Regions from separate parts of the Homo sapiens genome. Here region 2 is linked to region 1. Evidence: fine-mapped expression QTL. Tissue or cell type: lymphoblastoid cells. Region 1 holds a variant in brackets; the other region holds the start of a gene. All regions are shown on one strand. Distances are between the middles of the regions.

What was found. PIP is the estimated chance that this variant, and not a neighbour inherited with it, causes the effect.
Region 2: ARHGAP17 starts here. The variant in region 1 is fine-mapped to the expression of ARHGAP17 in lymphoblastoid cells (GENCORD, PIP 0.95).

What each region holds. Positions count from the first base shown.
Region 1 is chr16:25,896,730-25,904,911 of GRCh38, reverse strand. The region is part of intron 1 of HS3ST4 (heparan sulfate-glucosamine 3-sulfotransferase 4); the gene reads right to left. Among named protein-coding and RNA genes, the nearest start is that of MIR548W, 120 kb to the left of the region's middle. The variant C/T (reference allele first, on the strand shown) is at 3,328.
Region 2 is chr16:25,012,023-25,020,204 of GRCh38, reverse strand. It overlaps ARHGAP17 (Rho GTPase activating protein 17), which reads left to right and starts at 4,836. Exons shown (of 20, transcript NM_001006634.3): 1 at 4,836-4,996. The coding sequence starts at 4,944. It also overlaps the pseudogene LOC100421171. RefSeq lists silencers at 4,698-4,947, 5,028-5,077, 5,138-5,187, 5,248-5,297 and enhancers at 4,611-5,279, 5,280-5,948.

The sequences.
Region 1 (8,182 bases):
GAGCTAACATTTGTTGACCATTGACTCTGTACCAGGCGCTGTCCAAAATGCTTCACATTTATTAACTCATATAATGCTTAAAACAACCCTACAGTTAAATACTTTTTTTATACATGAGCCCCGCTTTATACAGGAACGAGGTGTGGCTCAGAAAAGATACATAACTGTCCCAGAGATGCACAGTTACTAACTGGCAAACAGAATCAGAATTAGGTATTATTAAAATCTCAAAATTCTTTCTCTTGATTACCAAGCTATATTGAAAGACTTATTGAAAAAATGAATGAAGATAGGAATAAATGAATGAATGACTTTCATTGCCCTTGGATATCTGGGAAGCCAAGCAACCTGTCCCCACAAGCCAGTGAAAGTGCCCTATTCTGACGGCCAGTGCTAATGTATAAAAACTAAAGAAGAGATTTATGCTTCCCATTTAATAATCTCACCTCTGGCAGCTCAAAAGTATATTCGATTTTAAAAAGCAAATGTTGCCACCTGTTATTTCAATGCTTTGACACCAAGATGAAGGATATGGAAATGCTTGACCAGCATGATGGACTCAAAGAAGTTGAAGAGCAGTGAATATTTTTTACTTATATTTATCACTAAGACATGAGAGGTTAGAAATGCCAAACATCATTCACTCATCCATCCATTCTTCCATCCATCCATTCATCCATTCATCCATCCATCCGTCCATCCATCCATCCATTCATCTGTCCATCCGTCCATCCATCCATCCATCCATTCATCCATTCATCCATCCATCCATCCATCCATCCATCCATCCATCCATCCATCCATTCATCCATTCATTCATCCATGCATCCATCCATCTATTCATCCAGTCATCCATCCATCGTTTCATCACTAATCTACCCATGCATGTATTCACTCACTTATTCATTTATCCACCCATTGATTCATTTCAATGTTCTCTCATTCACCAAATATTTATTAAGCTGTAGTACATTTTAGGTGAACTATTTAGGTGCTGGAAATACGTCAAGTTTGGAAAATAGTGGTCAAATGAATTTTCCTAAAACATGGAAAATGACCTCTGAACTGTGGCTTGAAGGACATGCAAAAACTATTCAGGCAAAAAAGTGCGTATTGTTTAGAGAATGTGGGAGGGGAGTATGGAAGCAGTTCTAGACATCAGTAACAACAGGTGTGCAAGCTCTGTGTGAGAGAAAGCCTAGCATGCAGGAAGCACTGGAGGAAGTTCAAGATGGCAGAACAGAAATGAGAGTATAGAGTGACAGGCATAAGGAAGAAAGAAGAGGTAAAGATGTGGACAAGTATGCTCAATCCTCCCTTTTGCTTCTAATAAGTAAGGAACGTCAGTTGCTATGTGGATCTACAAGGGATGCCCTGAGAATGGACTGTGCAAAGTTGAAGGGCACTTAATTTAACCATACCCATATCAATATACATATTGTTATAGGTAATGATGCAATGAATCAGGCATGAATTACAGCATTCAAACATGAGAGTCCAAATTGTGTGTGTGTGTGATATGTGATTTTATATATATATATATATAAGATATACATATACATATATATAATATATACATATACATATATATAATATATACATATACATACACACACACACACACACACACACACACACGTATATTCTTCATCTTCCTGTAAAACAACTTCAGTTCTTATCCTAAGTCTCTATTTTGCAGGGTATAGTGGGAGAAAAAAGAATCACTATTTCTCCCTGAGGTCTAATGTCACAGTGCAAGGAGTTTGGGGGTAAGATGCTGTAGACTCCAGCAATCTTTCCAGCCAGTATGGATGTTTTACTATTGCCCTGCAGCCTCAACAGCTCTCTGCTTCATTATCAAGCTTAACACCATACATTTTTTTTTTTTTTTGAGGCAGAGTCTCACTCCATCACCCAGGCTGGAGTGCAGTGACACAATCTCATGCCACCATGCCCAGCCAATTTTTGTATTTTTTTGTATGGACAGGGTCTCACCATGTTGACCAGGCTGGTCTTGAACTCCTGGGCTCGAGCAATCCATCTGCGTCAGCCTCCTAAGGTGCTGGAATTGCAGGCATGAGCCACTGCACCCAGGCATCCGCCAGACGTTGTTTTTTTTGTTCTGTTTTTTTTGTTTTTAATGCTGTCTGGAGTCCCATTTGCCTAGAACCACCACATTGCCGCTTTCTTGTGATTTTATGGGTTCCCGTTCATGAGTCTAGGAAGTGTAGCCTGGGTCACCTCCCTTCTGTACCCAGAGATCTCTCTGTCAACCCTCTTCACTCATCTCCCAACTGATGGGTTGAAGGTAGAAAACCTCTTTCCAGGGTTATGAGGAGGGGACCCACACTCCTCCCATGATGCTACTTCATATCCAAAATAATTGTCTTTTCTATGGTTTCATCTTTTTTTATTTTCTTTTTTTTGAGATAGGATCTCACTCTGTTGCCCAGGCTGGAGTGCAGTCATGATCACAACTCACTGCAGCTTCAGCCTTGAGCAATCCTCCCACCTCAGCCTCCAGAGTAGCTGAGACCACAGATGTGCACCACCACACCCAGCTAATTTTTTCAATTTTTTGGTAGAGACGGGGTCTCAAACACCTGGGCTCAAGCGATCTTCCCATCTTGTCCTCACAACGTGTGGGATTGCAGGCATGAGCCACCATGATGCCGGGCTTCATCTTTTGAATACAAAAGCCAGGAAGAAAGTGTAGGGGTGACAACATCAGTTTTCTTCCTATCATATCTCCACTCAAGGCCATGGACAGTGAGCTGATTATCAATTTGGTTGGGGGCAGGAGTAGGAGATAGGTGAGGAAGAAATGGGGAAATGCAGAAAAAAAGAACAATAGATTAACACCCATATCGTGGTGGAGATGTGATGCAGAGGTAGACATAAGCAGAGACCCAGCAACAGACCTGGTAGATGGGAGACACAGACATATGATAAGATACAACGGTGTTATTACACTTGTGTTTCCAAACTTTCCTTGCAAGTGAAACTCATTTTTTCTCCATTTTCCAAAACTTAAAGGAAGGCCCTGCCTTGCCAGTTTTTTGGGAGAATTCTGTAATGGAAAAAATGAAAGGAGTGGTGAGAGGACAAGAAAAAGATAAGAGAAAGCAAGGATGGAGGAAGAGCAGTAGGTAGCTTGAGGAAAGAGGGGCTGAAACAGCTCTTCTGTGTGAGAACAGAGAAAGGAAGAAGAAAGATGAGAGAGCATTTTTTTTCTTCTGACACAGAGTCTCGCTCTGTCACCCAGGATGGAGTGCAGTGGCACGATCTCGGCTCATTGCAACCTCTGCCTCCTGGGTTCAACCGATT[C/T]TCCTCCTCAGCCTCCTGAGTAGCTGGGATTACAGATGTGCACCAGCCACCACGCCTGGCTAATTTTTGCATTTTTGGTAGAGACGGGGTTTCTCCATGTTGGCCAGGCTGGTCTTGAACTCCTGACCTCCAGTGATCCACCCACCTCAGCCTCCCAAAGTGCTGGGAATATAGGCGTAAGCCACCACTCCCAGTCTGAAAGAGCATTTTAAGAATGGTTGCTGAAGATTTTCTAGTACTCCCTGGAGCTGGACGTGGGATATTGCACTGCCAGCCCTCATGAGACTGGTTAAGTTTCTGCAGATGCTGAGAGCCATTCTCAGACATTTTTACATGGCCCTGGGACCCCATGGACCACAGCTACTAAGTCTTAGGGCAGAAACAGAGAAAAGTACTCAGGGGCAAGGGAGAAATTTGTCACAGGTAACTTCACCAGGAAACTGCAGAGGAGATGAGAGAGTAACTACTAGCTAAGGAGGATTCCATGCATATGAGCTCAGGGAAGCCAGAGATCCTCCCCTAATACCACACAGGTCATTACTCAACTCTTCTCTCCAAGGATGCGCCAAGGGGTTCCATGGTCTTGACTTTCCAGAATAAAAGATCAATGTCAGTAGCAGAGTATCATGGCGGCTTCTCAAGCAGGTGCTGAGTAACAGAGTAGGAAGAACATGGCATCTAGAGTAATGTAATCATGTAATCTAGGACTACATTAAAATCTTCAACTCTCTTTATTTTGCAGGGTATAGTGGGAGAAAAAAATCCCTAGTTCTCCCTGAGGTCCCATGTCACTCCCTGAGGTCCCATGTTACAGTGCCGGGAGTTTGGGGGTAAGATGCTATAGATTCCAGCAATCTATCCAGCCAGTGTGTATGTTTTACCATTGCCCTGCAGCCTCAACAGCTCTCTGCTTCTTTATCAAGTTTACCCAAGTCTATCATTCCTCGGGTAATAAGGGAGCAATAACAGCTACATCCCAATGTTGTTGTATTGCATTAACCCGCACTCCTAACACGCCTGGCACATGTGAGGATCCAAATAACACCCTGACTGTCTCCCTTAAATGCCTCCCTGAAAGCTCAAGAATGTAAATTCTTATGGGTTAGGATACAAAAAGCAAAAAATAAAAATAAATCAAAAACAAAATAAATACAGAACAAACAACAGAGACTCACTTTTTTCATTATAATATAAATTCTAATAAAGTTGTTAAAGGTGGCATAAAAAGCATTTTTTGCAAATCCTCCTGTTGGTAAGTTATTCATTCATTTTTTCATTCATTCCACTTTCATTAATGACATTAATAACAATAGGGATTAAGGATCCAAGCTCGGGAAACAGAAGAACATAGAGTTTGAATAAATATAAGCTGTTTTGTAGGTAACTAATAATAAATACTACCACGTACCCTATTTGAATGACAAGATTACCAAGATAAACGTTACACACCTATCTTAAAATTACACAAAATCCAGTAAGGAATGAAGACCAGTTAAACTATCTGTTAAGAATGTTTTCAACTATGCATGACAGAACTTCTAGCTAACAATGGCTCAAAGCAGGAGAACATTTATGATTTATTTAACCAGGAATTTGAAAGTTGCTGGTCCCAGGGTTGGCCTGGCAGCTTCATGATTTCCTAATGGGATGTGTGCTCCTTTCTATTCTTCCTTCCTTGTTATATTGACCCATCCTTCTTATGTTTGTTACTGTGTGATCACAGCAGGCTGCCACTGAAGGAGTTCTCACATTTGCCTTTAAGACAGGAAGAGAGAAGAAGGAGAAGTCCTCATGGGGTTTTTGCCATGTTTTCCTTACCCCTAAGAAGCAAAACACCTTTTTAGAAGTCAATCAGCCAACCTGATCAACATGGTGAAGCCCCATCTCTACTAAAAATACCAAAAAAAAAAAAATAGCTGAGCGTGGTGGCATGCGCCTGTAATCCCAGCTACTTGGGAGGCTGACACAGGAAAATTGCTTGAACACGTACGGCAGAGGTTGCAGTGAGCTGAGATCGCACCACTGCACTCCAGCCTGGGCAACAGAGTGAGACTCCGTCTCAAAAATTAAAAAAAAAAAATTTAAAAAGGAGTTCAATCAGCATACCTGTCCTGACATTGCACTGGACAGAACTGGGTCATAGGCCCTTCCTCTGTAGGTTCAGGGAAAGCTGGTAAAGTATACCCCAAGCTTTTCAGCTTCTACAGAGAAAGGAGCAAGAGAGAAGATGGAAGTTAATGCCTGTTGGGTTAGCCACCTAATAATGTCTCCCTCAGAAACCTTCAGTATACAGCACCAACTGATATGGGGGGAACATTTATATTGTCAACAGAGGAGAGGTTGACTGACTGTGCTTTGGGGTTTGAGGAAGACTTTATACAGAAGACAACACTGGAGTAACATCTGAAATAAATGCATGGACGTGTGCCATTTGCAGTTAAGGACAGGATCTTTCAGTCATGGAGAACAGCAGATGCAAAAACAGAGAGATTGGAAAGAGAAAGACATCAAGGAAGAAAGGTGAGCTTGCAGTTGGTAGAAAAAGTAACTGTGCCACGGTGTGAAAGACATCTAGACAGTGAAACAAGTTAGGGTCCATCTTGTCCACCAGTATTTCTCAAAATAAGACGCTGCTGTTAGCGAATAGGAGAGCATTTTAGGAGGCAGATGAAAACAGCACTAAAGAGCATTGAGTTACATGAAAAAAGTATTCCCTTATAAATTCTCACGTAAGTCTTGTTTTTGCACCAAGGAGAAAGTCTTGGTTTGGTGTTGCTCTATCTTCAACATCTCCCTCTCTTATTCATGCCCCATTTTTAGCACAAAGAGAGCAAGCCTCAGGCAGAGTGCCTTGTCAACAGCTCCCAGAGAGGATTTAATAACACTGTTTGGTTTTGTTCTGTTTTCATCATATTCATGCTTCCGGTGACCTTATAGAGATGGCAAAGGGCAGTGTGCATTTGAATGAAAGCTATAATTTATTGTATTTTAATCTACATAAATATTTCCCAAAGTGAGTTAATTTACAGGAAAAGCTTGCATACATATGGCATACGTGGTATACTATATGACAGCAGTCATGAAGATCATCCACAGTGATGTCCTTACATCGTAAAACCATGAAGCTGATCTGCAAGAAGGGAAAGTTTGGGAAATCTTGATCCAGTGTATGGGAAGGCAGTCATATTTCTGCAGAAAGGGAGGAAAATGATCAGATTGGTCTCACAAAGACTTGCTGTTAATAAATGAGTAGATGACATGCAAGGAGCTCAGGATCCTGCCAGGCACATAAAATAAGTATTAACTATGTGAGTGCCATTAGCACTACTAAAGTCATTTTCAGTTTGCAAGCAAGGTGAGTTTGAGGGTGAGAGATTGGACACAGGTGGTGAGTCAAGAGGTTGTTAGTTTGATAGAAGCTAAGCAAAATCCAGGGACAGTGAGAAGACATTGAGCAAGAAAGATTCTGCAGCTCTCCATGGGACAGAGGCCGGGGTGAATTCCTCCTTTCCCTCAGTTGGAGCTTGAAGCTGTCTGAGTCCCAGGCGGCTCACTGTGACCCACTGCCAGGGCTCGCCTGCGCGGATCTACTCAGATGAACGCAGTGCACACACACATAAAAATCCCCAAGCACATTCTGTCCCAAATGAGGCACCTTGTCATTTTCAGAATATCAGCTGTCACACATAGCGAGAGTCCTCATCTGCTAAAATGAGAAAGGGGGCGGGGGGAAAGCAAAGCACCTGAACATAAACTAAAAAAAGATTTGAAACCTTGCTCTAAAGAACATCTCATCAGCCAGAGTCTTTTCAGTGAGGCAGCCCTGCCAGGAACACAATCCAGCACCTCCCCCAGGCAGAACGGCAGAACGAGGGGGAGAGAAGAAGGGGGAGAGAGAGGAAGCTGTGGGTGGGTTCTACTGCCCCCCTACCACCACACACACTCCCCATGTGTTATCCAGTTCAATCCTTATCACAGTTCTGTAAAGAGGCCAGAGCTCAGAGGAACTGGGTGACTTGCCCATGATCACGCAGCCAGCAAAGGATCCCCTCTGGGACCGGAACCACATGTAGCCAGCCCGTCTGTGTCCAAAGTGCCCCTTTGGGCCAATTTTATATTATCATTTTTGTGGGGGGACAGGATCTCACTTTGTTGCCCAGGCTGGAGTGCAGCAGCACAATCCTGGCTCACTGCAGCCTCGACCTCTTGAGCTCAAGTGATCCTCCCTCCTCAGCCTCCCAAGCAGCTAGGACTACAGGCTTACCACCATGCCTGGCTAATCTGTGTATTTTTTGTGGAGATGGGGCTTTACCGTGTTGCCCAGACTGGTCTCGAACTCCTGAGCTCAAGTGAGCTCCTGCCTTGGCCTTCCAAAGTGCTGGGATTACACACGTGAGCTACTGTGCCTGGCCCCCAGTATTTTTTTCAACTTTTATTTTAGACTCTGGGGGCACATGTGCAGGTGTGCTACAAAGGTATATTACATAATGCTGGGGTTTGGAGTACAATTGAACCCATCACTCAGCAAGTGAACACAGTACCCAGTAGGCAGTTTTTCAACCCGTGTTCCCTTCCACCCTCCCCCATCTTGTATTCCTCAGTGTCTACTGTTCCCATCTTTACTCCGTAAGCACCCAATGTTAAGCTCCCACTGATAAGTGAGAACATGTGGTATTTGCTTTTCTGTTTCTGTGTTAATTCACTTAAGATAACGGCCTCCAGCTGCATCCCTGTTGCTGCAAAGGACATGATTTTGTTCTTGTTTTACAGCTGTGTAGTATTCTATGGTGTATATGTACCACATTTTCTTTATCCAATCCACTGTGGATTAATTCCACAGCTTGGTTAATTCCAT
Region 2 (8,182 bases), 880 kb after region 1:
CCTTCCTTCCTTCCGTCCTTCCTTCCTTTCTTTATTTCTGTCTGTCTCTGTCTTTCTTTCTCTCTCTCTCTCTCTCTCTCTTTCTTTTTGAGATGGAGTTTCACTTTTGTCGCCCAGGCTTGAGTGCAATAGTGCGATCTCAGCTCACTGCAACCTCCGCCTCCCAGGTTCAAGCAATTCTCCTGCCTCAGCCTCCCAGGCACCCGCCACCACGCCCGGCTAATTTTTTTTTGTATTTTTAGTAGAGATGGGGTTTTGCCATATTGGCCAGGCTGGTCTCAAACTCCTGACCTCAGGTGATCCGCCCGCCTCGGCCTCCCAAAGGGCTGGGATTACAGGCATGAGCTACCACGCCCGGCCCACACTTCCATTTTCTTAACTGGCTGTTTTAATTTATTAGGTCCTTGTGGAAGCTCCTCAAACGGATTACCATTAACACCTCCAATCTCATGACCAGTGCTGGATGCTTGCAAAATTGTCACTAAAGTTTGACATTCCTGACTTAATGCATCTGTTTCAATGTCTTTTTCTAGAATGAGACATGATGACTTCTGAAAAGTGTCTTTAAATTTCTCCTGACCATTACTAGTGGACAGTTTTTTATTTTCCTCTTGCAGCTTATGGGGGCCTGTTTCATTACCAGCAATAATATCCATTGTTTGGTGATCTTCCTTTTTGAGACAGCTATTTTCTTGAGCTGCCTTATTCCAAACAGCCTGTATTTGTTCTCTGTCCAAAGCAGGTGCTTGCAGTTGCTGCTGAAGGTGAGCAACGCCCTGGGTGTCAGAGGCTGAAGCTGTTCTAGCCTGAAGGCCCTGCACCTCTGTATCTTCCTGACCAACCCCATTGATGGACAGCTGATCCATCTGTTTAAAGTCATATTATTTTTACTTATAAATTTATTCTCCAATTCTTTCTTTCCCCCTCTGGTCCTTGATTCAGGATTAATCTCCAATTCTTGCTCTTTCATTCCTTTCACTAATCTTTCAGTTTCAGATTTAAATAAACTATGCGTTTCACTTCTGCTTTCTATATTGGGACATTCAACTTCTGTTGCTTGAAAAATGGCTCAGAGTCTTTTAATGTCTTGTCCTGTTTCATGCAGCTGGGTTTTGATTCTTTTCCTATTGTGTTTTGCAAATTCCTAATTTCTTCACCTTTTACTGAAAAGAGCTGGGTGTATGTGATACTCATTTGCTTGTGCTGGTTTTAAAAATCATCCATTTCCTACTTTTTTCTCCTCTTTTAAAGACTGAAGCAGTTGCATCTTACTCTGTGTTTGCTCTTCAATTATGGTTATTTATTTATTTATTTTTGAGACAGAATCTTGCTCTGTCGGCCAGGCTGGAGTGTAGTGGCACAATCCTGGCTCACTGCAACCTGTGCCTCCTGGGTTCAAACAATTCTCCTGCCTCAGCCTCTTGAGTAGCTGGGATTACAGGCACCCACCACCACACCCGGCTAATTTTTGTATTTTTAGTGGAGACAAGGTTTTGCCATGTTGGCCAGGCTGGTCTCAAACTCCTGACCCCAGATGATCTACTCACCTCGGCCTCCCAAAGTGCTGGGATTACAGACGTGAGCCGCTGTGCCTGGCCTCTTCAGTCTTTTTTGTTTTTGTTTTTGTTTTTTTTGACGGATTCTTCTTCTGTTGCCCAGGCTGGAGTACAGTGGTGCGATCTTGGCTCACTGCAACCTCTACCTCCTGGGTTCAAGCGATTCTCCTGCCTCAGCCTCCAGAGTAGCTGGGACTACAGGCACTTCCACCGCACCTGGCTAATTTTATTTTTAGTAGAGACAGGGTTTCACCATGTTGGCCAGGCCGGTCTTGAACTCCTGGCCTCAAGTGATTTTGGCCTCCCAAAGTTCAAGTGATTTCTTGAACTCCTGGCCTCAAGTGATTTTGGCCTCCCAAAGTGCTGGGATTATAGGCATGAGTCACCATGCCCAACCTTCAAATATATTTTGATGATACTTTATTCCCTCCTCAAGATTACCTTTGATTATTTTCATTTGAAATATCTCCAATTCTAGTACCATAATAGTATCTACCATTCTAGGCTCAGCCACAGGGGCAGTTAGACTTTGTTGTCCTCTGAGTCATTTCAATTCTTCTATCAGATTTTTTTTTCTTTCATGGATGCAAGACATCTGTCTTTTTCCTCTATGGTTTGCTATGAAATTTCTTTCTTTCTTTCTTAAGGTTTTAGTATAATAATTCCTCTGGAAGCTCTGAACTTCCTTTAAGTTTTTTTTTAAAAAAATTGCTTTCTCTCTTATAAGTTGTGTCAATTGCTTCTGCTCTTCTCAACTAGATGACAAAATCAAATCAGTCTCTGATTGTCTTCTTGGAGGGATCTAATGGTTGCATCTTTTTCCTGCAGCGATTTTCTTAGCTCTTCAATCTCTTGGAGTAAATTTAGGAGCACTTTTTCTTTAGTTTCTTTATGGTCAGTGTCCATCTGTTTAATATTCTTTTTTTTTTTTTGAGACAGTAACCTTGTCACGTTGTCTCTGTCACCTTGACTGGACCACCCTGTCACCTAGGCTGGACCACCCTGCAGAGGCCAGATCTCAGCTCACTGCAACCTCTGCCTCCAAGGTTCAAGCGATTGTCTCGTCTCAGCTTCCCCAGCAGCTGGGATTACAGGCGCCCGCCACCACGCCTGACTAATTTTTGTATTTTTAGTAGAGACTGGGTTTCACCATGTTGGCCAGGCTGGTCTTGAACTCCTGACCTCAGGTGATCCACCTACCTCGACCTCCCAAAGTGCTGGGATTACAGGTGTGATGCATTGCACCCAGCCTCAATATTCTTTTTGAGTGCTGACATTTCAGAGTCTTTCTCGTGGCTGAGTTTAATTACACACTCTTGCTCTAGCTGTAAGGCAGAGCTCTCCAGGTTAGCTTCAGTGGACAATCTTTTCATGGTTTTCTCAGAGTTGTTTCTTCCAATAGCCTCTTTTCAGCTAGGGGTCTCACTCTGTCACCCAGACAAGAGTGCAATGGTGTGATAATAGCTCACTGCAGCCTCAAATTCCTGGGCTCAAATGATCCTGTTGCCTCAGCCTTTCAACTAGTTGGGAGTACAGGTGCATGCCACTGCTTCTGGCCTTTTTTTTTTTTTTAAATTTTTCATAGAGATGAGGTTTTAGTATGTTGTCCAGGCTAGTCTCATACTCCTGAGCTCAAGTGATCTTCCCATCTTGACCTCCCAAAGTGCTAGGATTACAGGTGTGAGCCACTGCACCTGGCCCCAGAAGATAATTTTTTATTTGTCTTTTACTCTATGTTCAAATTCTTCAATTTTTTGGTAGACTCTACTTTTTCAATTTGTAGAGCTTGCATGAATAGTGTTTTCCTTCTCTTGAAGTTTAGAGAGATCATGTACTGTAATTCCTGAGCCACCTTGCTGTAACAAATTTTCCAGTTCTTCAATCTTTTCTTCCTAATTGCTTAGATTTTCTTGATGCTTACAACTTATTTCCCTCAATTTCTGTTGATGAACATTCTGTAATACTGATAATTCAAGCTGATGGTCATCAGTATCCTGACTTCTTTTTTGTTTGAGCTCCTTGATGATATTAATATTTGGTGTTTGTAGTTTGTAGATTTCATTTTCATCAAAACTAGTTGTTCCTCCTATTTTATAAGTCTGAGCAATACATTTCCAATGGCCAACTGGAGACTCAAGTTTTAGAACTTCATTGGACTATCTGTTTATTTCTTGTTATGATGAAATTATGTCATAAAAACCCATGTAAGCGTCGTGGAACACTGAAGCATGATGGGTACCACATGGAATGGAGGGGATGCAGTGTGGATGGGAACCTCCGGCCTTCCCTGAATGTGCTGACTCCAGGGCTGGCTGCCGGTCCTGCAACCGATCCTGTAGTGCTTGCTTTCTTGTTTTAGGAAGGCTCATTTCTACCTCTTTCTGTTGTAATTGATGTCGATAACTTTTAGTTTGCTGCCCTATCTGAAGCTCTGATGCTTCCTAGGTCTCTCCTAGGTCACTAAAAAGATCTTGAAGTCCCTCATTCTTTGATATTAAGAATTCCAAACTGGCATCAGTCTCCTTTATCCCATAGTTAGGGAGCTCTTTCCTTTTTCTATGACATTTAGGAGCACATTTGAGATGTGGCTGATGAAAGAAGCCACATTGCTGCCCATCCAATGCAAAGAAGGGGCTTACCTGGAGCCAAGGCCACCAAACCAGGAAGACATGAGTGTGTGAGCACGTGTGTTAAGGAAAACACACATTGACTTTAATTTTTTTTTTTTTTTTTTTTTTCGAGACAGGGTCTCTCACTCTGTTGCCCAGGCTGGAGTGCAGTGGCGCCATCTCGGCTCACTGCAACCTCTGCCTTTCGGGTAAAAGCCGTTCTCCTGCTTCAGCCTCCTGAGTAGCTGGGATTACAGGCGTCCACCACCACGCCCAGCTAAATTTGTATTGTTAGTAGAGACAGGATTTCACCGTGTTGGCCAGGCTGCTCTCGAACTCCCGAGCTCAAGTGATCTGCCCCCTCGGCCTCCCAAAGTGCTGAGATTACAACGTTGAACCACTGCGCCCTGCTAGAAACAGCTTTTCATACGTTGAAATAAACGAGAGGGTGACCGGGCAGCGTTGGGGTCGGGGAGGCCAGGCGGAGGAGGCCTAGTGGTCTTCTCGCCCGGGGCCTTCTAGCTCTTCGCCCGTGTCAGGTAAGGCACTGTTAGCCTCGGCTCGGTTCGACTCGGCTCTACTCGGGCTCAGCTCGGCTCGGCCAGACCTAGAGGGCGGGCGGGCGGTGCCACTGGAAGTGACGAGGCGAGGGCGGGGCCGCCGGCCCGGGGAGCCACCGCCGCGCCGCCGTTTGGGCCGGGAAGCGATGTAGTAGCTGCCAGGCTGTCCCCCGCCCTGCCCGGCCCGAGCCCCGCGGGCCGCCGCCGCCACCGCCGCCATGAAGAAGCAGTTCAACCGCATGAAGCAGCTGGCTAACCAGACCGTGGGCAGGCGAGTGCGCCGGGCAGCACGGGGGTCGCACCGGGGCTGGGGGCGGAGGGCGGAGGGCGCGGGGGCGGGACGGCTCCTCCGCGGTCCGGCGGCTCTGAGCTGGGCCGCAGCCCCTGCCCGAGACCAGCGGGGCACGGGCCCGGGGGCTGCGCCGCGCTGAGGCCCGAGCGCCGCGCTCCAGGCGGCCCGCCTGTCTCTCAGCGCCGCCGGGCTCCCGAGACCTGCAGGGGAGGGCCGCCGCCTCCTCCGCCACACCGCGGGGTCCCCTGCCCATTGTCCCTGCCCCGGGAGCATCGCCCTCGGGGAGTAGACCCGGTCCTTCTCCTCCCTTCCCGGGGGCCGAGCCAGCTGGGATCGCTGCCCTGGGCTCAACAACGGTGACTTCTGTCCCTAACGCTGTGCCGAGCGCTGTGCTGTGGGGGGCGGCAGTCCCAGGCTTTCCCGGTGCTCCCGCTGTTTGCGAGTCCTTCTCCTGTAAGTGCATGGCGGCAAGAAATGGCTAGAGGGACATGAAAGCCAGCCGGATTTGCTCAGTGAGTTCAGAACGCCCTTTGAGGGAATTCGGAGGTGGTGCTGTCTCAAAACCAGGGCTCCTAGGAACTGGACTGCTGCTGCCAGTTCTTGACATTTAGAAATTAGGAATTGGCGGAAAAGGATTATGGAGACGCCTTGCGCCAATTTAAAAAGTCTCACCTTAGGTTTGGAAACAAATGCTTCTTTATCTTCCTTTGCTACGGTTGAAGTGCTTAACAAGAAACGTTATTGATTATTAAATGGCAGGCTAGACCAGAGTTGGTAGATCAGGTTGTCAGAACAAGAAATGATTTGTGGTTTTTGAGAGTTTCTGGAGGTGACTGTCATGTGCTGTATTATCTGGGGCTAATATTTCAAGGTCTTTCAGGGCAGCTGGCTGTACTGTACCGATTTAGTGTTTATTCAGCAAAGAGATACGAAAGTATGAATTTCTCACAGCTCTTCTTTTGATTTTCTGTTTTTAACAGTTAAGGGGAGTTTGGTTTGGCTGAAGCACGTGGGACACTTCTTTTTTTTGAGTGTATGAAAATACTTTTACTTCCTCTCGAGTTTTCTAAATTTGCTTTTTACTGTTTCATTTCCTCCATCTTTTTGCTTAGTTTCCTTGTTTAATTTTTTCGATTCCCTACCGTATTATTGTGGTGAGAATTAACTCTTATTTTCAGGGTTAATCGCTGCCCCTAAAGCCCAGACAAACCTACTTTTCTGTTATTTGCAGGAAAATTAAAGAAATAATGCTGAGAGGAAGGTAGACGTGTGGTAATGGCGGCTGATGTTTCAAGGAACAGTTTACAAGCACATGATAATTTCTTGTGAGTTTCGTACCCTTGTTAGTGTTCTGAGCAACGTGCATTGTGGAACTAGTATTTAGTAAGTGCCAAGATACATTTGTCAAATAGTCGTTTGGCTTGTTTTTACATTGTTCGTGACAGGTAAGGGACTTTCACTCTTTTTATACAAAGTTCTGAGACTTAAATCTACCAAGCTATTTAGGGTCTCTTTGACTCCTGGGTCATCTTAGAGGCTTCTCCCTTCACACTTTTTTTTTTTTTTGAGACAGGGTCTCCCTTTGTCACCCAAGCTGGGGTGCAGTGGTGCGATCTTGTCTCATTGCAGCCTTGACTTCCCTGGGCTCAAGCGACCCTCTCGCCTCAGCCACCTATGTGGTTGGAACTACAGGTGGGCACCACCACATCCGCTAATTTTTGTATTTTTTGTAGAGTGGGGATTTGCCATGTTGCCTAGGGTGGTCTCGAACTCCTGGCCTCAACTGATCTGCCTGCCTTGGCCTCCCAAAGTTCTGGGACTACAAGCGTGAGCCACCTTGCCTGGCACCTTCACATTTTAAAATTCCGGCCATGCTTGCCTACCTTCAGTTTCCACAGGAGGTCTTGCTTTCTTACCTGCTAGCATCTACTTGGAACTCCTGGAAGCCTCTCCCACCACACCTTTTCTCCAGGCACCTCTTGCTCATTCTTCAGCCTTCTGGGAAAGGTCCCTCTGCCTCTGAAAGGCCTTCTATGATGCTACAGCATAGATTGGATGCCTCTCCTGGGCGTTCTTGTAATCCTGTGTAGCACTTGCTTTTCTGTGCTGTGACTGCCTCTTGTGTGTGTTCTCCATCAGATAAATACCTTGAGAGTCCTTGCTGTGTCTCCTTTGATTCCCAGGGTCTGCTGTGGTTCCTACCCCATGGCCAGGGTGCAGTAGACATTGTTAATTCTGGTATTTGAGTTCTTACTAGATCGCCTTGGTGGTGTGGGCCCGAGTATGGGAAAACATGAAGTGGATAGAGTAGATGGTGATTCATGCTGGAGCTGTAATTCTGGGCCTGACCTTTGACTGTCTTTAAAAATCTTTATTGCTAGATGCCAGTGGAAGCTGAAGCTATTACAGAACTATTAAGGGTGTGGCAATTATGCACCCAAAGTCAGAACATCTGTTTTTAACTGGGAAACCTGTTGCTTCCTTGCTGTTGATTTCCTAGATGTGTGTGTGTATGTGTTTTCTGCTTAAGTAATCAGAAAGGACTAAGGAAGATAAACGGAGGCTGGAGAGTGCCTAGAATTGTTACTGCTTGGAAGTAGGTGGTTGGTTGGCCCCAGAATCAGGATTCTGGGTGTTTTTAGGTCAAGATGAAGGCTACAAAGCAAAGGGTTTTTTTGTTTTCGCCCCTGCGATCTAGGTGGAGAAGGAAGTTATATATGTGAATGTCATGCCCATCGTGTTTTGGTTTATCAATTTGTGGAATTCTAGGTGGTGTCTTGCAGTGAGATATTCTCCTCAGAAGGGAGACCTTTGAGTACTTTCACTGTAAGGTTCCAGGGGAGGGACTTGTAGAGAATTAGTAATGCCTGGAAGGAATGAGTTCGCATGATGCAGTTTGTTTACGATGGGTGGGTAAGTCTATTTGAGAAGACGGCCTGAAACTCACAGGGGCAAGGCTTATGAGGTGGTCTCATGGTGTGAGTGTCCCAAAGAAGAGAAGTAGGATGGTTCTTTTAGTCCACCTGCCTTTTGTTGATTCATGCATTCAACAGACACTTGTTGAGCCTACACTGTGTCCTGTTATCCAGGGTATTAAAGAATCAAAGGTGAATACGGGCATGGTTTCTGCCCTGAGGGAGCTCAGGAGATACGTGGAAGAGGTAG